7 linked regions of the Homo sapiens genome follow. The protein of the gene in region 4 purifies or fractionates together with the protein of the main gene of each other region. This does not show direct contact. Each region holds a gene or a part of one and is shown on either strand. Other genes may lie near its edges. The genes, in order: METTL16, PLCG2, KLHL12, UBXN7, WDR11, PLEKHG3 and PHF6.

What was found.
Region 1: the proteins of UBXN7 (region 4) and METTL16 purify together in Homo sapiens (affinity purification with mass spectrometry, with the first as the bait; one study listed by BioGRID). This does not show direct contact.
Region 2: the proteins of UBXN7 (region 4) and PLCG2 purify together in Homo sapiens (affinity purification with mass spectrometry, with the first as the bait; one study listed by BioGRID). This does not show direct contact.
Region 3: the proteins of UBXN7 (region 4) and KLHL12 purify together in Homo sapiens (affinity purification with mass spectrometry; 2 studies listed by BioGRID and IntAct, with this or other methods). This does not show direct contact.
Region 5: the proteins of UBXN7 (region 4) and WDR11 purify together in Homo sapiens (affinity purification with mass spectrometry; 2 studies listed by BioGRID and IntAct, with this or other methods). This does not show direct contact.
Region 6: the proteins of UBXN7 (region 4) and PLEKHG3 purify together in Homo sapiens (affinity purification with mass spectrometry; one large-scale study listed by BioGRID and IntAct). This does not show direct contact.
Region 7: the proteins of UBXN7 (region 4) and PHF6 purify together in Homo sapiens (affinity purification with mass spectrometry, with the first as the bait; one large-scale study listed by BioGRID). This does not show direct contact.

Annotation. Positions count from the first base shown.
Region 1 is NC_000017.11:2,477,389-2,480,888, reverse strand, and holds part of METTL16 (RNA N(6)-adenosine-methyltransferase METTL16), read left to right. Parts: intron 1-3,003; coding exon 3,004-3,203; intron 3,204-3,500. UniProt on the Homo sapiens protein: RNA N6-methyltransferase that methylates adenosine residues at the N(6) position of a subset of RNAs and is involved in S-adenosyl-L-methionine homeostasis by regulating expression of MAT2A transcripts.
Region 2 is NC_000016.10:81,782,291-81,785,790, reverse strand, and holds part of PLCG2 (1-phosphatidylinositol 4,5-bisphosphate phosphodiesterase gamma-2), read right to left. Parts: intron 1-3,500. UniProt on the Homo sapiens protein: The production of the second messenger molecules diacylglycerol (DAG) and inositol 1,4,5-trisphosphate (IP3) is mediated by activated phosphatidylinositol-specific phospholipase C enzymes. It is a crucial enzyme in transmembrane signaling.
Region 3 is NC_000001.11:202,917,235-202,920,734, forward strand, and holds part of KLHL12 (kelch-like protein 12), read right to left. Parts: intron 2,675-3,500; coding exon 2,521-2,674; intron 1,155-2,520; coding exon 937-1,154; intron 1-936. UniProt on the Homo sapiens protein: Substrate-specific adapter of a BCR (BTB-CUL3-RBX1) E3 ubiquitin ligase complex that acts as a negative regulator of Wnt signaling pathway and ER-Golgi transport.
Region 4 is NC_000003.12:196,369,928-196,373,427, reverse strand, and holds part of UBXN7 (UBX domain-containing protein 7), read left to right. Parts: intron 1-1,385; coding exon 1,386-1,532; intron 1,533-3,500. UniProt on the Homo sapiens protein: Ubiquitin-binding adapter that links a subset of NEDD8-associated cullin ring ligases (CRLs) to the segregase VCP/p97, to regulate turnover of their ubiquitination substrates.
Region 5 is NC_000010.11:120,903,362-120,906,692, forward strand, and holds part of WDR11 (WD repeat-containing protein 11), read left to right. Parts: intron 1-685; coding exon 686-781; intron 782-1,284; coding exon 1,285-1,450; intron 1,451-1,957; coding exon 1,958-2,055; intron 2,056-2,514; coding exon 2,515-2,660; intron 2,661-3,331. UniProt on the Homo sapiens protein: Involved in the Hedgehog (Hh) signaling pathway, is essential for normal ciliogenesis.
Region 6 is NC_000014.9:64,738,924-64,742,423, forward strand, and holds part of PLEKHG3 (pleckstrin homology domain-containing family G member 3), read left to right. Parts: intron 1-2,112; coding exon 2,113-3,500. UniProt on the Homo sapiens protein: Plays a role in controlling cell polarity and cell motility by selectively binding newly polymerized actin and activating RAC1 and CDC42 to enhance local actin polymerization.
Region 7 is NC_000023.11:134,425,312-134,429,290, reverse strand, and holds the end of PHF6 (PHD finger protein 6), read right to left. Parts: coding exon 3,961-3,979; exon of another isoform or gene 3,631-3,960; 3' UTR 501-3,630; downstream 1-500.

The sequences.
Region 1 (3,500 bases), on a different chromosome or scaffold from region 4:
TTATTTTTAGCATCCATTGATAATTCTTAATTGAAACAATTATTAGCATGGCGATTGCCAAATGTAATTATCTAACTCTTTCATTACTTCTACATTTAAGGATGGACTCATGTATTTTATTCTATGGTCTATAATCCTTTGTTAGCCTTCTTCATTCACATTGACACAGATTTGGCCAAAGGGAGCCCCATCAAGCAGGGTCTAGTGTACTTCTGATTTGTTTCTATCTTCCTTTCAGCATGTCCTGTTTTCTAATACAATAAAATGCTTCGGGTTTATCTTGTACTTCCCTTTCCAATTCTGGAATAACCATTTATCCAAGGAACTCCGATTCCTTTGGGGAGTGCTATTTGGAAACCAAGGTCTGGCACTCTAGGTATGCTCGTAGCGATGGGAGCGTCATTGCTTCCAGGCTCTGGCTGTGTCTCTTCAGGGTCCACTATAGTCATCCTGTTTCTGTCTGCTGTAGATTATATTAAAGCTTCATTCTTCATCCCTTCCATTTTCCTCCCTATAAGTTAGTGTCTGGAAGCATTCTTAGAGGTCAGACGAAATCATTATATTCAGGTATGGAATGCAATTTTTGTATAGATAACAAATCTATATTCATGAAATCTGATGCTGCCCATCATCCATCTTTTTGCAAGGTCTTTTCCTGTGAAAGGTATGTTTTTTCTTTTCTTTTCTTTTTTTTTTTTTTTTTGAGACAGAGTCTCTCTCTGTCACCTAGGCTGAAGTGCAGTGGCACAGTCTCGGCTCACTGCAACCTCTGCCTTCCGGGTTCAAGCGATTCTCCTGCCTCAGCCTCCTGAGTAGCTGGGATTACAGGCATGCGCCACCATGCCTGGCTGATTTTGTATTTTTAGTAGAGTTGGGGTTTCTCCATGTTGGTCAGGCTGGTCTCGAACTCCCAACCTCAGGTGATCCACCCACCTCAGCCTCCCAAAGTGGTAGGATTACAGGTGTGAGCCACCGTGCCCGGCCAGTCCTTTACTTTTATAGGTGGAGAAACTGAGACCTAAGAACTGAAGTGACTTACGTCCATGGCAAATTGATTGCAGAGCCAAAAGTGGAGTCCAGATCTCCTAACTTCCATACTAGAACATTTTTGCTGTGGGGAGTGGAGAGAGATTGGGTTGATGGTACCTGCCTGAAGTTTCCATGGTTGCTGGGTGGAAACAGCACTCTTCCTTCTGTCTTGGCACTCAAGCATCCCGATGGACATTGAATTTTTCCAATGATTGGTCATTTGATGACCAGGCAGGGGAGCAGAAAAGGAGATAGTACAGACCAGAAGCTGTTTGAGGATGTGTTGTTGCCTGACCAGACACCTTGAGGCCAGAATTCTAAGTAGTTTCAAAACTCCTCCCTTTCATACCCCATCTACTGACTTTCTGCTTTCTTCAAAATGCTCTGTTGGCCAGGTGCAGTGGTTCACGCCTGCAATCCCAACACTTAGGCTGAGGCGGGAGGATTACATGGGCCCAGGAGTTCAAGACCAGTTGAGGCAACATAAGGGGCTGGGCCCTTTTCTCTACGAAAAAAAAAAAAAAAAAAAGCTTAGTGTGGTGGTATGCACCTGTAGTCCCAGCTACTTGTGGGGCCGAGGCAGGAGGGTCACTTGAGCCTGGGAGGGTGAGGCTGCAGTGAGCCATGATCACACCGTGCATTCCAGTCTGGGAGACAGTGAGGACCTGGCTCAAAAACAAAACAAAACAAAACAAAACCCACAAAAACCAAAAAAGACCCTGCTCTGTTTATAAATAAGGTCTGTTGATATTCTTTTTTAATATTTTCAGTTTAGCAGTATTTTGACATCAACATAGTTATATTGGTACAAGTTTCTTAAAAGGTTAAATACAAATATATCTTATGATCCATTCCTGACTGTCTACCCAAGAGCAGCGAAAACGTATGTCCACACAAAGACTTGTATGTAAATGTTCATAGCAGCATTGTTCGTGATGGTCAACAATCCATCATGACCGTGATGGAAACAACCCAGATGTTCAGGAACTGGTGAATGGATAAACAAAATGTAGTCATTCTTACTATGGAACATTATTCGCCCATAAAAAGAAGTGAAACACTGACAAGTTACAAAATGGATGAACCTCACAAACTTGTGTTAAGTGACCAGAAGACCTCATTATGATTTCAGTTACTTGAAGTGTCCAGAAAAGGCAAATCTATGAAGACAGAAAGTACATCAATGGTTGCCTCAGGCTAACGTTGGAAATGAGGAAAGACATGCAAATGGTCATGAGTTCTGCTTTTTGGGGTGATAGGAGTGTTCTAAAAGTGGGTTTTGGTGATGGTTGCACGACTCTGTTAATATACTAGAAACTATTCAATTGTACACTTACAGGTGAATTTTATAGTATGTGAATTATACTTCATAAAGCTTTAAAAAGTTACATTTAAAATTTGATGTCTGTAATATTTGTCATATTTAAGTATCTTATCCTGTGTTCATATTAAACATTTTTATACTGACTTCTTTCCACTTTTAAGTAGGATTTTCAAGGAATGCTAATGTCAGATGATGTTAATGGTAAGAGTAAAAACAGCTAGCATTTGTAAAATAGTTATTATGCACCAGACATTATGCTAAGTACTTCTCAGGTCATCTCACAGTAGCATTGTGATATTGGTATTACTGTCCTCATTTCACAGCAGAGGAAACACTTTCATAGAGGTAAATGACTTGTTCAAAGTCACACAGTGAGGAGACGACGAGACAGGAATTTGAGCCGAGTCATTTAATCTCTGTGCTCCATATACGGATATGCAGTGTTTTTGGTGGAGGATTGTACTGATTTTCATAAGCTGTGACTGTGTGAAACACTCGTGTATGTGCCACTGGGATGAGTGCTCTGTGTAACTGTGTGTGATCTCCCTGGGAGGTTCGGATGGGTATTTGGTTCTGCCTGTTTGCCGTAGAGCTTGTACAACATAGTGAATCTTACTAATCAGTTTTACTTCCTTTTCTTTATTCCTCAGCCTTAATTTTAAAGACCCCGAAGCAGTCAGAGCTCTGACGTGTACTCTCCTAAGGGAAGATTTTGGACTTTCTATTGATATTCCATTGGAGAGACTAATTCCCACAGTTCCCTTGAGACTCAACTATATTCACTGGGTAGAAGATCTGATCGGTCACCAGGATTCTGACAAAAGTACTCTCCGAAGAGGAATTGACATAGGTATATCATTTTAAATTCTTTTTTGGCTAAACAGTTTTCATAAGTTTTGCGAGATCAAATTCTTTGTAAACTTTTCTACTGGGTATTTGTTGTTGTACAAAAGAAGCTGGCTACAGATACAGGTTGAGCATCCTTAATCCGAAAATCCGAAATGCTTCAAAATCTGCAACCTTTGAGCACTGATGTGTTGCTCAAAGGCAATGTGCGTTGGAGCGTTCCAGATTTGGGGGTTAGGGATGTTCAGCCTGTAAATATAGTGCACATATTTCAAAATCTGAAAAAAAAATTGAAATCCAA
Region 2 (3,500 bases), on a different chromosome or scaffold from region 4:
GAGAGCTAAGGCAGGACACAAAGGTTTAAATGGAAACTGAAGTGTGAGAAGAGCCCCTGACCTCAAGGACCCAACCGTTACGTGGGCTTTGAATAACCAAATCACCCTGACCTGGCAGTGAGTCCCCTCTCTCCCCACCCACTCTTATCCTAAAGAATATTTGAATAGCCAAAGCAGCCCAGCCTGGCTCCCACCTCTCACCCCTAATCTCCAACATCCTTCTCTATCCTGTCTAGAGATTTCTAACCATCTCTTTATTCCTGAGCAAAATTAAGAACAAAAAAAAAAAAAAAATGAAATAAACGAAAAACAAACTAAACCTTCAGAATCATCCATGGAGACTTTGGCAAATGGTTCCTCTGCATAGAAATGAGGATGAAAGGCAGGAAATGTCAGGTCTTGGCAGCTTCACGTTCAAACCCTAGAGAAGGTTCCTGCTGACTGTGTAGCTCTGGGTAGACTGCTTGACCTCTCTGTGCCTCAGTTTTAGCCTTTTTAAAATGGGAGTGTTCAGAAATGCCCCAGCAAAGCACCTGGGGTGACGGCCAGCACCTAGGAGGTGTCCTTGATTGCTGTTTATGCTTGTGGGTGGTCAGTGTCAGAGAGGTGCTTGGGCCCAAAACCTTGGAGGAATCCTTGCGTGGACTCTCTCACGACCACTTCCAACGCATCTCACCCTTTCACCGGCTCCTCCTAGGATCTCATACTTGAACTATTCTAATCCTGCTCTCCCCACTTCTTCCCTGACCTGCTAGGGTCAATTCTCAGATGCAGAGCCAGAAGGATCCTTTTAGAACATGAATCAAATCATGTCACTCCTCTGCTCAAAATCCCTTAGTCCCTCCCTGAGCCCTCACTCTGTACCATTCCCTCATTCTGCCTCCCAAATCCCCAGAAACACATTGCCTGCCCCCAAAATAGGACTTAGAGTGAAGGCGCTCCCCAGGCCCTGGAGCTGAACCACCAGGGACCCCCTTGCCAGCTAGGCTGCAAGAAGTCACTTAGATCCTCTGGGCTCATTTCCAGTCCCATAAAAGAAGGTAACAGTATCCACCATCTAAATGTTTTTGTAAGGCTTAAACAAGATAATGTATCTCAGGCCCTTAAAACAATGATACAAAGTCAGCACTCCTTAGATTAAGCTATTGTTAAAATTACCATTATTTGTTCTGTTTCTTATCTCCTCCTTTCCCTCCAAGTCCCTGGAGGTGCCTGGAGTTGTTACTCTGTAGCTCTCAAGGTTACAGAGTAGCACTAGAGAGACCCTCCCAGGATCCAAAGAAGGAGGAGTGAGAGGCTGGTGTTCAGCCAGGGCTGTCTGTGCTTCCAGCCGGGCTCAGCCTTCTGCCAAGCTGCTCTAAATCTGTGGCTCGGTTCCCTCATCTGTAAAATGGAGGTTAAATGCCCACAAGGGGCAGCTGGGAAGACAAAAAGCTACAATGTATGCACAGCCTGCAGCATTTACCAGGGTCTCAGTTAGCATTAATCAGCCATTGGGGAAGGCATTAATCAAATGTCAACTCTATGCCAGGCACTGAGGTGGGGACTAGGATGCAAATGAGGGGAATGGGGAGGGGCCCAGGATTTGCCCTTTGCCCCCACCTCCCTCTACTGCACACCCATACCAAAGGGACCTCCTCGGTCAGCCATGCCAGCAGCAGGAGATAATTACACCTGCTCTCTGCCCATGGGGAAACAGACTAATCAACTGAGAATTCTAATGTAGTTACAAGTGCAGCAGCAGAAGCATGCACTGGGGGCACGGCGGGCAGAGAGCAGCAAGAAGGAATCCTAAATTTAATCTGGAGTGTGGCTAGGCACTTAAAGGGCTCAGAAAAAGCTTTCAGGGGAAAAAAGCAGGCATCTGAACTCAATCTTTCAAAAAAGATGAAGCAGGAGGAACTGGCTTTAAGTTTAAGCAAAGGCTAGGAGGCAGAACAGAGTATGCTAAAAAAAAACCCTGCTGAGAGTTAATGTGCATCTTACCTTATCAGGAGAAACCCAAAATGACCTCCTGATCATTAGCCAGGACAAAGGGATGAACAAGGTGCCCCCATGGTCCATTTCATCCTTGTTAAGCAGCCATTTATTGGGCCCTTCCCCAGGTGCCAAGCACCTGTTGTGTCTGGTTCGTCTCATTTATCTCAATGGGAAATACGGCAGCGGAAAACTGAAATCCCAAGAGGTCACATTACTTGATCAAAGTCATGTAGACCAGCAGCAGCACAAAGATCAAAACCCTCACCTGAGTCCCAAGCCCCTAGTCCAGAATCCTGTGGCAGCATCTGGCCAGATATTAACTGATTTGCCAGTACTTGCCACTCTCAAAAGAGGTTAAGGGACTTATCCGAGGTCACACAGATAGAAAGTAGCAAAACGAGTTAATGGGTGCAGCACACCAACATGGCACGTGTATATATATGTAACAAACCTGCACGTTGTGCACATGTACCCTAAAACTTAAAGCATAATAATAATATAATAATAAAATTTTAAAAAAGTAGCTGAAACTGGATTTGACCCAGCTGCCAACCACAGAGCTCTTCACTATGTTGACTGTTCCCAGCCATGCATCCTGGAGTTCCCCACTCCCAGGTCTCTAGGCCATAGTCCACTGGAACATAAGTAGGAAACACAAGCCCCATTATAACACCTTCAATTAGACAGAAACCAGGACAAGGGACCAGGCTCCTCAGTTCTTTCCAGCCCTCACTCTGGGAGGGCCTTGGACTTAACCTTCCCCAGGGTCCCAGTTACTTCCAGCTTCGAAGCCCAGTGGATCAACTCAGCCATAAACACCAGACTTCCATGCTGCGTCTCACCAATTGCTTTGTAATAGCTGCTCACAGGTTGCCCTAAAGGAGCAGGGGTGGAATTTACACTCTCACCTGCAGTGGCTGACACCGTTCCTTTGAAAACACTGTATCCCCTCTGATGCTGCAGGGTGGGTGTAAGGTGCAGCAGTAATGTCCATTCAACTGTTGGAGGGGCCCTTACCACTCAAGTATTTGCCTGTGCCCCATTTTAACAGAATCGTTTTGTGGGATTTTGGATGAAATCCTGTACTGGCTTAACATGCACAGAGCACTGAAGAGAAAAACTTCCTTGATTTCTGGTTTGGGGTTCTTGTATCTCACGAAATGCCCTTCTAAATAAGCTTGTGAGATACAAGAACATGAATGAGCTTATGAGATGCAATTGGAAACAGATCTTCACGGCCAAAAGATCCCTGGAGTCCACCATTCAAATCCTGCCAGCACCCAGCTCAGGTCTCCAGCGTTCCACGCTTTATCAACTATGGCAGGGAGGTCTCCAAGACCTTGAGCCCAGGAGAGAGCACCAGCCACCACAGCAACTTCCATTTTGCTTCTGCTTTTTTTGGTTTTTTCAAAAAAAGAAAAAAAAAAGCCTTGAAATCCCTTTTTTGTTCCTGTTTCCCATTCTTAATGGGTAATTCTATAAAATGACTTATTTTGTAAATACAAATATGGCTGAGTTTG
Region 3 (3,500 bases), on a different chromosome or scaffold from region 4:
GACAGGGTCTCCCTCTGTTGCCTAGGCTAGAGTGCAGTGGTGCGATCATGGCTCACTGCAGCCTCAAACTCCCAGGCTCCAGAGATCCTCCCACCTCAGCCTCTCAAGTAGCTGGGACCACAGGTGCTCACCACCATGCCAGGCTAATTTTATTTTTTTGTAGAGACAGGGTTTTGCCATGTTGCCCAGGCTAGTATCAAACTCCTGGACACAAGCAGTTCTGCCTCAGCCTCCCAAAGTGCTGGGATTACAGGCATAGGCCACTGCACCTGGCCTACTATTCCTTTAACATCCAGTTCATGTGTCCCTCCCTTCCAACCGCTGCATCCTCACAAGACAGTTATGATTTGGCTCCTGCTTCTGTAGATCCTCACTTCCAAACTTTTGTCTCTTCATTTCTGATCCACTCCTGAGCAAAGGTTTATTCTTCTTTCTTCTATGTAATGTCCTTACTTTGTATAGGCTCACTATTCTCATGATCCTCTTTATAACATTTTTTTTGTCTATATCTCTGTCTCTACTAGCAGGTTGTGAATTTTCTGAAAGCAAGAACTATATTTACCCACTTGGGGATCTGTAGCACCTGGCATAGTTAAGTGCTACATAGTAGATATTCTCAATAAATGTTTGTGAAATGAGTGAACGGGTAATAGAGAAGTGGTCTACAGATACCTACTTTACTTCCAATTTCTGCTTATTCTATACTCTGTTGAATAGTGATTCTTACCCACTGGGATCATATATCTAATTGAAGAAAGTGGCAAACTCCCTCTCCATAAAAATGCAAATAAATTTGGTACAGGAGGGGTTAATGAAATCTTTGAGCCAAAATGCACACTTAATTATGAAGCCCTGATGGTAAGTAACTGCATCCTATTTGCAAGTTTTGTAATTGCCCAATCTTGAAGAAACCATAACATCAAGACAAATCCGTACCTGAATTTCGTCGCACTTGATTAGCTTTTCCACCTCTCCTTGACTCAGAAGAATGAACTCTTCATGCTGTACCACTTCAGGAAAATGCTTCTGGCTAAAAACCTCAGCTGCTTGCATCAGGTCAACACAATTGTGGGTTTCAGCAAAATCCCTAATACCCAGGCAATTAGAAGGGTCCAACTGACTTTCTAAGAACTCACAGCAGGCTTGTTTCACACCTAGGACAGACACAGGCAGCAAACACTTTAGAATAGTTGGACAGGTGTGATCTAGGATATATTCTTGTATCTCAGCATCTTCTCTACATGTTATCAGATGAACCCTTGTTTCAACACCTAAGAAACAGATTAGAAATTCTATGCTTAAGGAACTTAAACTCTATTTCTGGCTTATGTACTGTGCCACTTTCAGCAAGACCTTTACACCTGTCTCTGCTTAATCTTTAAAATGAGTATTGCAAGATGAATCACATCCAGAGACCTGGCACAATTCAACAAAAATGCCTATAAAACTCTTGGGAATCAAACTATAAAACCAATTGCGAATTCAGCATAATGTATCCATTTTCTACTCTACATGAAAACTTACTAAAAGACTAGAGTGAAAGAAAAGGAGAAGATAGTAATAACAAATCTCATATTTATCTAATTGAAAAGTTCAGAGTATTTTAATGTTATGGCTATGCACTAATGCAAAAGCTTCACACTGTTTAAATCATGTATTAAAAACTAAAAGTGTGTCAATTATGTATATATAAAAACTGAAAACATAACTGAATGTTAAAAAAGAAAAACTGGGGACCAGGAACGGTGGCTCGTGCCTATAATTCCAGCATTCTGGGAGGCAAGGTGGGAGGATCACTCGAGCCCACGAGCTTGAGACCAGCCTGAGCAACATAGAGAGAACTCATCTCCACACAAAAAAATTTTGTTTTAATTAGCTGGGTGTGGTGGCATGCACCTGTGGTCCCAGCTACTCAGGAGGCTGAGGTGTGAGAATTGCTTGAGCCCAAGAATTCAAGGATACAGTGAGCTGTGATTGCACCACTGTGCTCTAATCTGGGTGACAGAGTGAGACTCTGTCTCAAAAACAAAACAAAAAACCTGGGAATTGTAAGGGAAAACAAACCACCTGTAATCCTGTGAAAATATCATACTTTAATATTTTGTGCATCAATTTAAATTTCATGTATCTTAATGAAATACTACCACTTAATGGCCAGATAGATAAAGAGTATCCATGTAGGCTATGTATAGTATCACTTTTTTATTATATTTCCTTATAGGTGTGTTACATACATGTATGTAAGAAAACACATAATTTCTCCTTCCTCCATTTTTTTTTTAAAACAGAAAAGGTGCAAATGCTCTCTTTTATAGAGCCAAATACTCATATCTGGAGAAGTTCCTTTATAGTGCTATTGACATCTGATCTCTTATTGCTCAATGAGACAAAAGCCATGGCCAGCAAACATGAACATCCATAGTTTGTCTCCAAAATGTTCATGATTAAGTTTACACTATTAATTTTCAACCTTTCCAGGGCTATTTTGACATAAACAATAGCAAGTTTTAATGTCTGTACCTTTCAACTGAAGCAGACAGGCTGCAGGAAGCAGTTCTTGTACATTCTCCACTGTCACATGTACTGTTTCTGTGTACACAAAGTCCAATAAAATTTCCATGGTAGAGGCAGTCAAACCTTGGATGTCAACATAAGGTTTCCCCTTCTCTGAGAGCTGAAAATTCAAAAGGTATAAAAGAATGATGGTTATAATTCCACAAGATAAAGGCAGAATCTCATATCTAAGAGCTTAGAGATGTTAATAATATTAATTGAACATTTATCTTTAAAAATTACAGGCCAGGCGTGGTGGCTCATGCCTGTAATCCCAGCACTTTGAGAGGCTAAGGCAGGCAAATCACCTGAGGTCAGGAATTCAAGACCAGCCTGGCCAACACAGTGAAACCCCGTCTCCACTAGAAATACAAAAATTAGTTGGGCATGGTGGCACATGCCTGTAGTCCCAGCTACTCAGGAGGCTGAGGCAGGAGAATTGCTTCAACCCAGGAGGCGAAGGTTGCAGAGAGCCAAGATTGTGCCACTCCACTCCAGCCTGGGCACCAGAGTGAGACTCCATTTCAAAAAAATAAAAAAGAAAGAAAATAAAAAAATAAAATTATGCTCTATTTTGTTGGATTTTTTTTTTTTTTTTTTTTTTTTTGAGACGGAATCTTGCACTGTTTCCCAGGCTGGAGTGCAGTGGTGCCATCTCGGCTCACTGCAAGCTCCACCTCCTGGGTTCATGCCATTCTCCTGGCTCAGCCTCCCGAGTAGTTTGGACTACAGGCGCCCGCCACCACGCCCGGCTAATTTTTTGTACTTTTAGTAGAGACGGGGTTTCACCGTGTTAGCCAGGATGGTCTCGATCTCCTCACCTCGTGATCCGCCTGCCTCAGCCTCCCAAAGTGCTGGGATTACAGGCGTGAGCCACCGCGCCCGGCCAATTTTGTTGGATTTTAATAAAGCAAATATGGCACATTATCTGTAGCTTTCCAAATGAA
Region 4 (3,500 bases):
TGCTTTTCTGCCATTGTTTTCCACTCAGCAGCATTTCATGGGTCTTTATGCTGACAAGGGACTGACAGGCAAAAAGTACGCACTAACGATTGATGTATCGATATCTGTTGTACGAATCGTAGAGTTGTTTGGGGATCATTCTCAAACATTCTTTGACCTTGTAATCCCAATTTTTGGAATCTACTCCTAGGAAGACAACTCTTAAGAGAAAAAACTCTCAGCAGTTTTTACTAAAATGTTTAGGGTGATTCTCCAAAACAGCATATATGCCTAATAACTGAGATTAATATGATGTTTAAAAATGTTCCAGAAATGATGTTGAAGAAAACAAAGTAAAATATACACACCAATTGCATTCATTAAAAAGAAGTATAATTGGCTGGGCGCGGTGGCTCACGCCTATAATCCCAGCACTTTGGGAGGCTGAGATGGGTGCGTCACCTGAGGTCAGGAGTTTGAGACCAGCCTGGCCAACATGGTGAAACCCCGTCTCTTTACTAAAAATATATAAAAAATTAGTCAGGCATGGTGGCACACACCTGTAATCCCAGCTACTCGGTAGGCTAAGGCAGAAGAATCACTTGAACCTAGTAGGTGGAGGTTGTAGTGAGCCGAGATCGTGCCATTGTTCTCCGACTTAGGCAACAAGAGCAAAGCTCGTCTCAAAAAAAAAAAAAATTGTTGATGGAGGTTGCAAGAGAATAAAATTACGTGACTTGTTGATCTTAAGTTTGTTGAATCCTTTTCAGGTAAAGATGTTTAAACATACATTAAAAATTCAGCCATTACCGGTCATGATGAGTCACACCTGTAATTCCAGCACTTTGGGAGGCCAAGGTGGACGGGTCATTTGAGGTCAGAAGTTCGAGACCAGCCTGGCCAACATGTTGATACCCCATCTCTACTAAAAATACAAAAATCAGCCAGGCGTGTTGGGGCACGCCTTTAATCCCAACTACTTGGGAGGCTGCGGCGGGAGAATCACTTGAACTCAGGAGGTGGAGGTTGCAGTGAGCCGAGACTGCCCCACTGTACTCTAGCCTGGGCAATAGAGTTAGACTCTGTCTCAAAAAAAAAAAAAAAAGAAAGAAAGAAAGAAAGGAGAGAGAGAGAGAGAGAGAGAGAGAATCAGCTATTATAACAAATAACTGGATAAAAGAGAAATGAGTTCATTTAAATTTGAGCAGTGCTTGAAATGGACAGTATAGCTATAAATGCATATGCGAAGTAAATATATAGAATGTATAAATGCTGAAAACTCTAGATGTCGTATCTGGCAAAAACTTAGTATTTTTAATGAAAGACAACAACCTCTGAACAACTACGGAAACATCTGTCACTAAGTAGAAATTATTTCTAACAAATGTGTAACTTTACTCTTGCAGGCCAAAGAGTGTGGCCAGATGCAAAATAAGTGGCTGATGATAAACATTCAAAATGTTCAAGACTTTGCATGTCAGTGCCTCAACCGCGATGTGTGGAGCAACGAAGCTGTGAAGAATATTATCCGGGAACATTTCATTTTCTGGCAGGTGAGAAGGAGAGTTAATCAGAAGTTTTGTAGAATTTTACTTTTGTAGTGTGGGTTGTTGAGGGAAAGGAATTGGGTTATAATGAATTAAGACATTTAAAAAAAGGTAAAGCCGGCTGGGGGCAGTAGCTCACGCCTATAATCCCAGCACTTTGGGAGGCTGAGGCCGGCGGATCACCTGAGGTCAGGAGTTTGAGACCAGCCTGGCCAACATGGTGAAACCCTGTCTCTCCTAAAAATACAAAAAATCAGCCAGGTGTGGCAGCAGGCACCTGTAATCCCAGCTACTCGGGAGGCTGAGGCAGGAGAATCACTTGAACCCGGGTAGCGGAGACTGCAGTGAGCCAAGATCACACCATTACACTCCAGCCTGAACAATAGAGCTAGACTCCATCTCAAACAAAACAAAACAAACAAACTGTACTGTTCAGTAGAAATATATTGTAAGCTGTACACATAATTTAAATTTTTCCAGTAGCCACATTAAAAAAGATTAATCAAAATAGATGAAATTAACTGTAATAATGTATTTGGTTAAATCAATATATCTATATAACTAATACAAAAATAATGAGATGATCTGCATTTATTTGGTGTTGAGTCTTCAAGATATGGTTTGTATTTTATACTTACACCCCTTCTCCATTTGGAGTAGCAAGATTTCAGGTGCTTCAGTAGCCACTTGTGGGTAGTGGTTGCTGTATTAGACAGTGCAGGTATAGAAGATCTTGAGGTAATTGGAAGCATTTGGCTAAGACTTAGATTTTAGCTTGAGTTTGATACTTTTTAACTCTGTGTTCTTAGACATGTCACTTTAGTCTTCCCAGCTAATGAGATAAGGTTACAGACCTTGTATCATTTTTCCCCCACTGTGAGACAGGGTTTTGCTCTGTCACCCAGGCTGCAATGCAGTGGCATGAACATGGCTCAGCCTTGACCTCCTGGGCTCAAATGATCCTTCCACCTCAGTTTCTTGAGTAGTTGGGACCACAAACATGCACCACTATGCCCATATAATTTTTTTTTTTTTTTTTTTTTTGTAGAGATGGGGTCCTGCCATATTGCCCAGGCTCGTCTCGAACTCCTGGGCCCAAGCCATCTGCTTCCCTTGGCTTCCCAAAGTGCTGGGATTATAGGCATGAATCACCGTGCCGGCTCAATTTTTTTATTTTTTATTTTGTGAAAAGTTATAGAAAATAAAAACTTATGAAGGAGCTTAATTTTTTCCCCTACTGTAAGATATGCTATTAATGTTATTAATTTGCCTGTTTATATTTTACAGGCCCCTAAATTTAATGTAACTTTAATGGTAAAATTCCTTGTATTTTATTCAACAAATATTGATCGAGCAGCTCTTTGCTTAGCACTGTGCTGGACTCTTGAGCTTATAATCTTTTTTTCTTTCTTTCTTTTCTTTTCTTTTTTCTTTTTTTTTTTAAATAAATGGACAGGGTCTTGCTCTGTCACCCAGGCCGGAACACAGTGGTGCAGTCATAGCTCACTGCAGGCTCTAACCCCTATAGGCTCAAGGGATCTTCCCACCTCAGTCTCCTGAGTTGCTGGGACTATAGGTGCACACCATTAAACCTGGCTAATTTAAAAACAAACAAACAAACAAAAAAAAACAAAAAAACTTCTCGTGGAGATGCCCAGGCTGGTCTCAAACTCCTGGCCTCAAGCTGTCCTCTGCCTCTGCCCTACAAAGTGCTAGGGTTATAGGTGCGAGCCACCATGTGGAGCCATAATCTTTTTTTTTTTTTTTTTTTTTTGAGACAAGTCTTGCATTGTCGCTGGGCAGGAGTGCAGTGGCACGATCTCAGCTCACTGCAGTCTCTGCCTCCCGGGTTCAAGCGATTCCCCTGCTTCAGTCTCCCGAGTAGCTGGGACTACAAGCGCCTGTCACCAGGCCCGGCTAATTTTTGTATTTTAGTAGAGACGGGGTTTCACCATGTTGGCCAGGATGGTCTCA
Region 5 (3,331 bases), on a different chromosome or scaffold from region 4:
TAGCTGGGTGTGGTGGCACGTGCCTGTAGTCCCAGCTACTCAGGAGGCTGAGGGAGGAGAATCACTTGAACCCAGGAGGCGGAGGTTGCAGTGAGCTGAGATCACGCCACTGCATTCCAGCCTGGGCAACAGAGCAAGACTCTGTCTCCAAAAAAAAAAAAAGAAAGAAAAGAAAGAAGCCCTCGGTACATTTGCATTAAAAAAAAAGCCTGATCAAGATTTGAAAAGCTCATAGACAGTTACTGCGTTGTTTACTAAACATTAAAATTTTATTATTAAACAGGCTTGTTTAATTTGTCTTACATTTTTAACTTGGCTTCATTTTAATTCTGTCATTAATTTCCTATAAATAACAAATACTTTATACACTTGGTTTGAATTTGCTGTTCACATGATAATTTCTTTAACCTCCTGCAGAATCCTTCAGTGCACATAGGTTTTTCATCCGGCTCTACTTAAGTGTCAGTTTCTGTAGGCAGGCAGGTATGCATCCAAGTGATAATATCTATCAACATTTTTGCTGTTCAAATTCTTATTAAATGTTTGGGGTGCTGTAAAGTTGATTATCTAGTAACCTGAAAAGTCAAAGTAGTTTATTAAAATGATCTTATTAAGTACAGTAAAATTTAAATAATTCCAAACTCTTATAATCCAGGCTTAATTTTTCTTTTTTTTCCAATTCTAGAAATTTCAGCTAGAAAGGGTTAATCTGCAGGAAGTGAAACGGTCAACTTATGATCATACAAGGAAATGTACAGACCAGCTACTGCTCTTGGGTCAAGTATGTCAGTTTTTATAACTCTACATGCTTCATTAAATTGCTAGTTAATTCGTATTTCAGAGCAATATATCTGTATGTATATATTTCATAATATTTTCCCCTTGTATGTACCTCCTTCCCTGTAGACAGTTTAGGCTTTCTTTCAAAATAATACCAATAAACCTCATGAGAAAAAACATATGGTTAACCAGCTTGTAATTTAGACTTCCATAATGCCCAGTGGAGCCCAGCTATTTGTTTTGTTTTGTTTTTGTGTCTGAATTGACTGGTACAAAGCTAAAATAGGCAATTACTCGAGCACCTAGATACACCAGCCTCTGGCTTTATGTTTGTCTCAAAAAAGTAGTGTAGCACCTCTGTTTAATGTTTGTATTTGTAAACAAAATATTCAATTGCATTTTTTGAAAATGAGTGTTTTCCTTTAGTTTTCTACCTTATGAATTTTAAAAAGTTATGTTGGAGGAAAATGTTCTCATAATTAGAAAAACCGTTTCTCTTACTAGACAGACAGAGCTGTGCAGTTGCTGTTGGAAACAAGTGCAGATAACCAGCATTATTACTGTGATTCACTGAAAGCCTGTTTAGTCACTACTGTCACCTCGTCAGGCCCCTCTCAGAGCACCATTAAGTTGGTGGCAACGAATATGATTGCCAATGGCAAATTGGCAGGTAAGGCACACTTGATATGTTTGTCATCTCTCTGAAAAATGAGACCTTGTTCCCAGCAAAGTATCTGATTAGTAGGGACATTTCTTTCTCTTTTACATATGCTGAAGAAAAATAGAAAAATTATTGCTACCTATAAATCAGATGAATATAATTGTCTAAACCAGAATTAATTGTTTACACTTTTCAGAGTGAAAGGGGGCACTGTTAATAATTGCTGAGATAATAGGCATAAATCCAACAATCCTAGGCAAATCAGAACAATAAAACCTGTGAGAGAACTATGCTCTCCCTACTTATTCTCCAGACTGTATTGTGCTTCCTACCCTGGTTACTTGAGTAATAACAGTAAAACTCTTAATATTATGTTTCAGAATTTAAATCAAGAATGTCTTCAGTAGGTATAAAATGGGCACGACTAGATAAGGTCAAATGGGGATTTAACTTTTTAATGACTTCTCAAAGAAGGAGCTGCAGTGTCACTTAAGGGGATGCGCTTTTGTCTTTCAGAGGGCGTTCAGTTGCTCTGCCTGATAGATAAGGCTGCAGACGCCTGCCGCTACCTGCAGACATACGGCGAGTGGAATCGGGCTGCATGGCTGGCAAAAGTAGGTGGTTCCAAGTTTCAATAGGTGCCCTCAACATTCGGGATAGAAAGCTCAGTCCTGAACTTTGGACTTATGACTTAGAAACATTTTTTGGCCTGCAAAGCTGCTTTGCAAATACTGTCTTGGAACCTTTATCCTTTTCCTATTCTTTATGAGTGTAAATTGCATTACTTATTTAAAAATGGATCTTGCATTGGTAGCAATTAAGTAAAAGCAGCTGCCTCCTCTTTCTCCCAGAGTCTGAGCCGAAACTACAGTCCAGAGGTATAGCCAGGCCCTGGGTCCCGTAGGCACAGACCGTTATCATTATTCAGAGTATGCAGCAGCTTCAGGGCAGTGTGCTAGTCAAGCAGAGCATAGCCTGTATTTCATAGAAACAGATCTCACTTTAACTGAATTATTATTTTTTCTTTATAGAGTGCAGGATGTTTTTGTTGTTAACACAGGCGTCTTTCTCAGGTCCGTTTGAATCCTGAGGAGTGTGCCGATGTTTTAAGGCGGTGGGTTGACCACCTTTGTTCTCCACAAGTCAATCAGAAATCAAAGGCTCTCCTGGTTCTCCTCTCTCTGGGCTGCTTTTTTAGCGTGGCAGAGACGCTTCACAGGTAAACCGAGAGTTCACATGGGCTGCTCAGGCCTGCCCGTGAGCAGTCACTTCATGTTCTCTCGCGGTTCTAGCAGGTCATGGTACTCGATGTGTAAAGTGAAAGGAGAAGTATACATTTCAGGTTTGTCAAAAAACCCAAAGGAGAATGGAACTGTCCGTATTCATTACATCTTCATTCGGTCTAGGAGCTATGCTAGTTTCCTACTAATATGCTGATCAGACTTAACAGGCACCTAGTAAAAGGGAATTTAAAAGTCTTCAGAGAATTGGGGTCCATTCAGCTTTGACTAGAGCAACTGAGAGGAGGCCCAGAGAGCAGGGGGAGAGGCGACAGAAGGCATGGTGAGGTGGAGACATCCCGTCTGAAAATCTGGAAGAGGAACAACCATCACTAATTGTGGAGCATTTCATTTATTCAAAACTAAGGGAGGTAGATTACGGAAATATGACAAAAGATTACTTGTCAACTCTGGACAGGGGTACATGGGCACTTGTCATATCTCTGTAGATTTTTGTGTATTTAAACTATTTCACAATTTTTTAAAGTATTAATTTTAAAAAGCTTGTGTTTGGAGATGTGAGTATTCTTCCCTCCTTTTTTCAACAAACTAGGGCTTAGAAAAGTGCTTGTATCTTAATGCAGTATGCAGGTTTCCAGGGAAAATGTGT
Region 6 (3,500 bases), on a different chromosome or scaffold from region 4:
TAGGGCTTTCAGGCACAGGCTCTCCCACTGGGCCCATGGGAACAGAGATTCCCCACCTCCCAGGACTCTCAGCCCTGCATGAAGCCTGTTTGGCCTAGAGTATATGGTTTGGTGAGCAGACCACCCCTTTCTATGAAGTAGAGAAAGGCTCCCCTTTGGGCAGATGCAGTCCCATGTCAAGGGCACGCAGCTAGTGGAAATGAACCAGGTATTAGGCTCCTTTCGTTAGGCCACCTTGTATGGGTTATAAGGCCCTGTCCCTGCCAGCATGCCAGACATTGAAATCACACCTGTGGTCACCTGGGCAAAGGGTAGAGAACTGATATCTGTTGGACACCTCCTCTGTAACTGATGTGTTATTTCTTCCTACTCTTCCCCACAATGGCTCTAGAAGGAAAAGGGCACTGAGTGGTTGATGGCGTGCCTAACACTGAGCAGCTTCTGAGGCGCGGGGCTGAGATCAGACCTGGGGCTGGGACTCAGAGGCCCACTCTCCTCCTCCTGCTGCCCTATGCTGTCTGTGGGTTGTAGGAAGCAGCATCCTTTACTTTCCCAAAGTTATAAGGGAAAGATCGTGAGCTACAGCCTGGACCCCATGTTGGACCCCACAGCCAGGACTGAGAAGCCTGGATGATACTGGACAGGAATGTAGCATGATGTCTTAGCTTGAGCTGCTGTAACAAAATCCCTTACTGCTACGTGGGTAGCTTAGTTATTGCTCACAGTTTTGGAGGCTGGAAATTCTAAGGTCAAGATGCCAGCAGACCCTGGGGAGGGCTTGCCCTCTGCTTCGTAGATGGTGGCTTCTTGCTGTGTCCTCACATGGCAAAGGGGCAAGGAAGCTCCCTTGATCCTCATTTGTAAGGGATCTGACCCCACTCATGAGGATGGAGCCCTTGTGACCTAATTTCCCAAAGGCCCCCCCTCTCATTCCCATCACACTGGGTGTTAGCCTCCACATGGCAATTTTAGAGATACACAGACATTCAGAGCAGAGCAAATTGGGGTGTCAAATAATAATACAATGAGAACCACCCATTACAAAGTTTAAAAGAAGCAGATGAAATTAATTTTAGTAGTATATTTTATTTAACCCAATGTATACAGAGTATTATTCTAACATGTAATCAACATAAAAAGTTACTGATATGTTTTATCCCTTTTTTTATACAGAGTCTTTGCAATCTGGTGTGTATTTTATCCCAAGAGCAGGTTTCCATCTGGCCTAACCCCATTTCGGGTGCTCAGAAAGCCACAGTGGCTGGTGGCTCCCATGTTGAACAGTGCAAGTCTAGATCATGGGTCTTGCTCTGCAGATTCTGAACTAGAACAGAAGGAATTATGTCCGATCTTATAATTAGTGTTTGCTCTTATCTCCTTAAAGACTGCTCTGGAAAGCCGCGTATGTCATCAGTTCTGTGGTTCAAATTACTTTCAAGGTGGTCAAGAGGGAATTCTCAAGTTTGCTTTCTTCCTTGCCCATTTCCTGGGCATATGCAGTTGTGCTGGGCCCACAGGTACTGGGAGGAGCCACATTCCTGGTCCTCATCCTCTGACGAGATTCCAGCATGTGGCTGTGTTGCTCTCTAGACCCTAATCCACATGGGAGGCCCTGTCCCCTGAGGAAAATGAAATGGCCTCTCATGTTGTGCAGGTCTGGGTTTGAACCCTAGAACCTCCAAGTGAGGAGCCTCTAGGGCTTTGGGGAGCTGCCTCACCATCAGCCATGCTGGTTCCATGACACTGTGAGAACCAGCCCCTGGGAACCTGGGGCCATGCCCAACCCACTGTTGTGTGTTCCCACCTTGTCCCTGTAGCTCCTAGGCTGGCTGCCATCAAGGTGTTGCCATCCTGACCCATCTGCATTCTTACTGTTTTCCTTGGTTTTGAGGACATGGGCCCAGCACCCCCACTGTACGGTGACTAAAGGACACAGTCATGTTCCTCTAAGGACCCATCACCTACTCCTAAGTCGTGCTCATTCTGATTGCCTTGAGTCCTAAACTACAGGTCCCTGTCATTGGGCCTTGAGCAGGCCATGCTGTCCCCTTGTTCCCCGGATCCCATGAAGGAGGCTTTTTACTCATGTGAGCCTTTTCTGCTATGTTTCAGGTTGAGCCGGACCCTGAGGCTGGGAGTGAGCAAGAGGTATTTTCTGCTGTGGAAGGGCCCAGTGCCGAGGAGACGCCTTCAGACACAGAATCTCCAGAAGTCCTGGAGACACAGCTTGATGCCCACCAGGGCCTTCTGGGGATGGACCCCCCAGGTGACATGGTGGACTTCGTGGCAGCTGAGAGCACTGAGGACCTTAAGGCCCTGAGCAGCGAGGAGGAAGAAGAAATGGGAGGTGCCGCCCAGGAGCCTGAGAGCCTTCTGCCACCCTCTGTGCTGGACCAGGCCAGCGTCATTGCGGAGCGATTTGTCAGCAGCTTCTCTCGGCGGAGCAGCGTGGCACAGGAGGACAGCAAGTCCAGTGGCTTTGGGAGCCCGCGGCTGGTCAGCCGGAGCAGCAGCGTGCTCAGCCTGGAGGGCAGCGAGAAGGGCCTGGCCCGGCATGGCAGTGCCACAGACTCCCTCAGCTGTCAGCTCTCCCCAGAAGTGGACATCAGTGTGGGGGTGGCCACAGAGGACAGCCCTTCTGTCAATGGGATGGAGCCCCCAAGCCCAGGCTGCCCAGTGGAGCCTGACCGGTCTTCCTGCAAGAAGAAGGAATCAGCACTCTCCACCCGAGACCGGCTGTTGCTAGACAAGATTAAGAGCTATTATGAAAATGCAGAACACCATGATGCAGGCTTCAGCGTCCGTCGCCGGGAGAGCCTCTCCTACATCCCCAAAGGACTGGTAAGAAACTCCATCTCCAGGTTCAACAGCCTTCCCCGGCCAGACCCAGAGCCAGTACCTCCAGTGGGGAGCAAGAGACAGGTGGGCTCCCGGCCGACTTCGTGGGCCCTGTTTGAGCTCCCAGGACCAAGCCAGGCAGTCAAAGGGGACCCACCTCCCATCTCAGATGCTGAGTTCCGCCCATCTTCAGAAATTGTGAAGATCTGGGAGGGAATGGAGTCTTCCGGAGGGAGCCCTGGGAAGGGGCCAGGCCAGGGCCAGGCCAATGGCTTTGACCTGCATGAGCCACTCTTCATCCTGGAGGAGCATGAGCTGGGAGCCATCACAGAGGAGTCGGCCACTGCCTCCCCGGAAAGCTCCTCTCCCACTGAGGGGCGCAGCCCGGCCCACCTGGCCCGGGAGCTGAAAGAGCTGGTGAAGGAGCTGAGCAGCAGTACCCAGGGGGAGCTGGTGGCCCCACTGCACCCCCGCATCGTGCAGCTCTCCCACGTAATGGACAGCCACGTGAGCGAGCGCGTCAAGAACAAGGTCTACCAGCTGGCCCGCCAGTACAGCCTCCGGATCAAGAGCAACAAGCCAGTGATGGCCAGGCCACCACTGCAGTGGGAAAAGGTGGCCCCTGAGAGGGATGGGAAGAGCCCCACTGTGCCCTGTCTACA
Region 7 (3,979 bases), on a different chromosome or scaffold from region 4:
TTACAACTTGATTTCTGCCCTGGATGTGACAAACCTCAATATATGAGCACTGTACTAGAAGCACACTGTCCATGGTAATGGGAGTACATTTAAAGATATAAGGTAAAATCCCTTTATGACAAGGATATTAATCCTGCACCCATATTGCCAATCTGATAAATAGTACTAGGAGTTTTGGTTTATTTTCAAAATAACCTTCTAACTAGGTTTCAGAGGATCTGATTTAAACGATGGGCATCTGAACCATGTAATAAAAAAACCAAGATGTAATGCAGTTCGATTGTACTTACAAGATTGCAGTTTCTCTCCATGATAAAACTTTTATATTGTGAAACTTTGAACTGAATTCAAATTCACACTTTTTTTCCTCCCATACTTGTTTAATGAAAAGTTATTAAGGCATTTTACTCTGAAATAAAGCAAGACTAAAAGGAACACAATACTATTGCTGTTATCAAATAAGCTTCAGTATACACTTTCACAAAAAAGACAAACAAATATGAAAGTCATAAGTCATTTATTGAATGAATAGTATATGCAAGAATACCAATAAAAGGAAACTAATACTACAAACTACAATTTTGAAAATAAAGCCAATATAACAGGAACAAAATATACATAACATGAGAGGAATGTTTGATTTTTGACCCATAATGCATTCCTTATCTTTACAATTAACCTAAATGTCTGTTAGAACAAAACTGTATACCTTGGTCTAACTTCAGCGCTTTTTTTAAAAAAGCAACAACACTCTAGAACACTTTTTCTTTTGCTTTGAGATATTTGAGATTCACACATTTGTTCAAGTACACAGATTCTGATTCAATAGCAGATCTACAGATCTTGTTATCTCTTAATATCTTGAGTAGCATGTACTTCTGAGCAAGTACTATCTGAAATTCTAAAACTGCTGATTCTTGAAATAAAATTTACTTCAGTTGTGGGTTTTTAATAACTTGAGATGAAAGTAAAATTCACCCCCTGCCCCCCTCCCCCAGGAACAAAGAGCTCTTCTTAAAAGTATAGAAACTCAAGTCTATCTTTCTACTCTAAAGAACATTTCCTACTAACATTTCTGGTAAGGCAATAAATGCTCCAGAATAATCTTCAATATACGCTTGCAAAGATTACACTGTTTAATATCAATAACAAAAAACAAAACAAAAAAAGAAAAAAGAAAGAAAAAAGACGCTTCAAAATTTCAGGCTAAAATATGCATAAAAGACAGTAACGGCAGTATTTTTTGAAATGATGTAAATGTTATATACTTATCAAATAATGTCATGCTTATTAAAACTACAGTTAAGGACTTAAGAGATGTACAGTAAATACACTGCTGAGGTCCATTTTTCTAAATATTAATACCACAATGTAATTACTACCCAGAAGATGATGATGCTACTTGGGAACATAAGTACTGTACAATTTTTACATTGTAAGGCACTTTTACTCAGCATGTGACGAAAACATGATTAGAGAATCAAAACATTGGAGGTTTACAACCAAACATGATTTTTCATGTGAATTCAATTTACATTTGAATTTTTAATGCGAGATTGTTTAGCCAATCACACCACAGTGAGAAAAACAGGTAGTCAGCCACTTATCTAGCCAACCAAAAGGTAAAGTGCTATTCTGGTTGCTAGTGGCAGAAAAAGGGCTGAAGAAACCCATACAAAGTCATACATTTTACTACATAACAAATTCATCAACTGACAGCTATAGTATTTGAACTCCTTTATATAATTATTGACTGGCCATGATTACCCCCGGCACCTTCCATTTTTCCTAAAAAAAAAATGATTACAGTAGTTGTCCAAAAATGAAGGAGCTCTGTTGTCCCATGGGTAAGTCTATGGCACACAATGTAAAAAATGATCTAGACACAGTGATTTAAGGATTTTAAAATAATGATTTTCAAGCTGTTGTAAGGAAAGAAAGTACAGATCCTTTGGGAGAAGTCACATAGCTTGGTAAACAAACATCTAGATCTGTCCTTGCACTTCAAGTCATGAATTTTGAAAATCACATACACACAAAAACCCAATGGCATATTAAGAGCAAAAAGAGAAAACATACAGGGCAACCCACTACTAAAGCTAGTTTCCTTCTAAAAATAGTAAAAGATGGTTAAAATAAAAGCAAGCATTGAGTCCCTTGATTTAAGTAAATGTGTGAATACACACTTGACAAACGTGATCTTAAGGGACTCGCAGTTTAAAAAAAAATCAGTCATTAAGCACAGTGTAATTTTCCACCTGTTACATTTTTAAAATGCTGCTCTATCAGCTGCAGAATATCTCAATGTACAGTCAAGTTAACATTATTATTTCTTATTTAAAAATCTGCTTTATTGTGGTGGCTTAATAATTCAACTAGTCAAAATCCCTCCCCTTGGTACTGAGGTGCTATGGTAGTATCAGGCAGACCACAACTAAAGTTATTTGGTTTTGCCATAAAGAAATGCATAAATGTGCTTCAGCAGGTAAGTGGAAGAAAATATCACTACCTAGAAATGCCAGTGTGAAAATCCTTTCTAAAAAGCTGGGTTCTTAGGCTTTCAAAAACAATTCTGACAATCGATAAAACACCACCAAGCCCTACAAGAAGAAAAGTAGGGCACAAAAGCCTATTTTATAGATAACCAAAGCAATGACTGAAAACATTAAAATATTAAATAAAGTTTCTAAAATAGTGGTCACAAAAGTAAAAATAAATACTGTTTTATGCAAAGACTTTTTTACTCCTACAGCACATGAGACCTCCTTACGTACTGTGCGCCAATATGTGAAGTGTTCCACACAACAGGGCACTTGAGAGGAACAGGTTTCGGACATGGTGTCTGAAGTCCTTAGCAAGCGGTAACCCTTTCTTTACATCTTAAAAACGTTTAATTTGCTGTTGCCAAATGTTAGTTTAAACTTGAAGGACTCAATCATTTTGCCAGAAGTCCTTTGTATAACATGGAAAGAGAGGAGGTGTGCTGTCAAGAGAATTTTGGCAAAAGCACTGGAGCTCATAGCTTATCATTACCAGTTGCCTGAGTCCATGCTGGTCAGTGAGAACAACTTTAACAGGAACCAAATGAAAAGCTTTAGCATACTTCTTGGAAGAGATTTTTAGCATGTGCTGTCAAAGTCAAGAGAAAAAGAAGGTTCTCTTCATTTCTAGCCTCCATTACTTGAGTATGAAAAAAAAATCCACAAATTACCATGTGCTGCCACCAGTGGCATGTTTGCATTGTAAAGGAAAATTTGCTTATGCTTTCCTTTGAGTATGGATCCACTAAACAAACTTAAATGCTCTAAACAGCAGAGCTTTGTTCAGTCCAGAAATATAGCTTACTTCGTTTCGTCTGCTTTAACTGTTGACACTATACACAGGGTTAATAGTGTTTCAATTGCTTCCCAGAAACTGCAAACTATAGCTACGTAATATCAACATGTCAAACTCAGCCTTCTAGTGAGGGCTCATAAAACAAACAAGACATTTTTAGGCAGTTCAATGAAGGATCTAAGAGTTGGGCAGTAAAAAGTTACAAACCCTTTTTGATTTTAGAAAACAGTGAAAAAAGAATAGTAGTTATGGATGTCTTATTCATTCCCAGTTTTCTAACTCTGTCCCATGAACCTGTTTAAAAGATGATAAAAAAATGTAAAATATGATGCTTGAGGGGAACACAATCAATATAATGTTATTGAGGAGTGTGAATATCTTATTGATTTGACATTACAACTACACTTATTGATAAAGCAGATAGCTTGTTTTTATGGTTACAAAATCAGCTAGTTAAAAAACAACTACTATGCAAGCCTACAAAATCCTCAGCATTTTAGTAACATGCTCTTAACTAAACATAATAGGATTAAAAAAAATCTTACTGCATACCATTACTTCAACATGTATATATCAGTGTGTATTGTATCCTGACAACAGATCCCATATAATTAACTTTCATACCTAGTTTCCATTAAGTTGC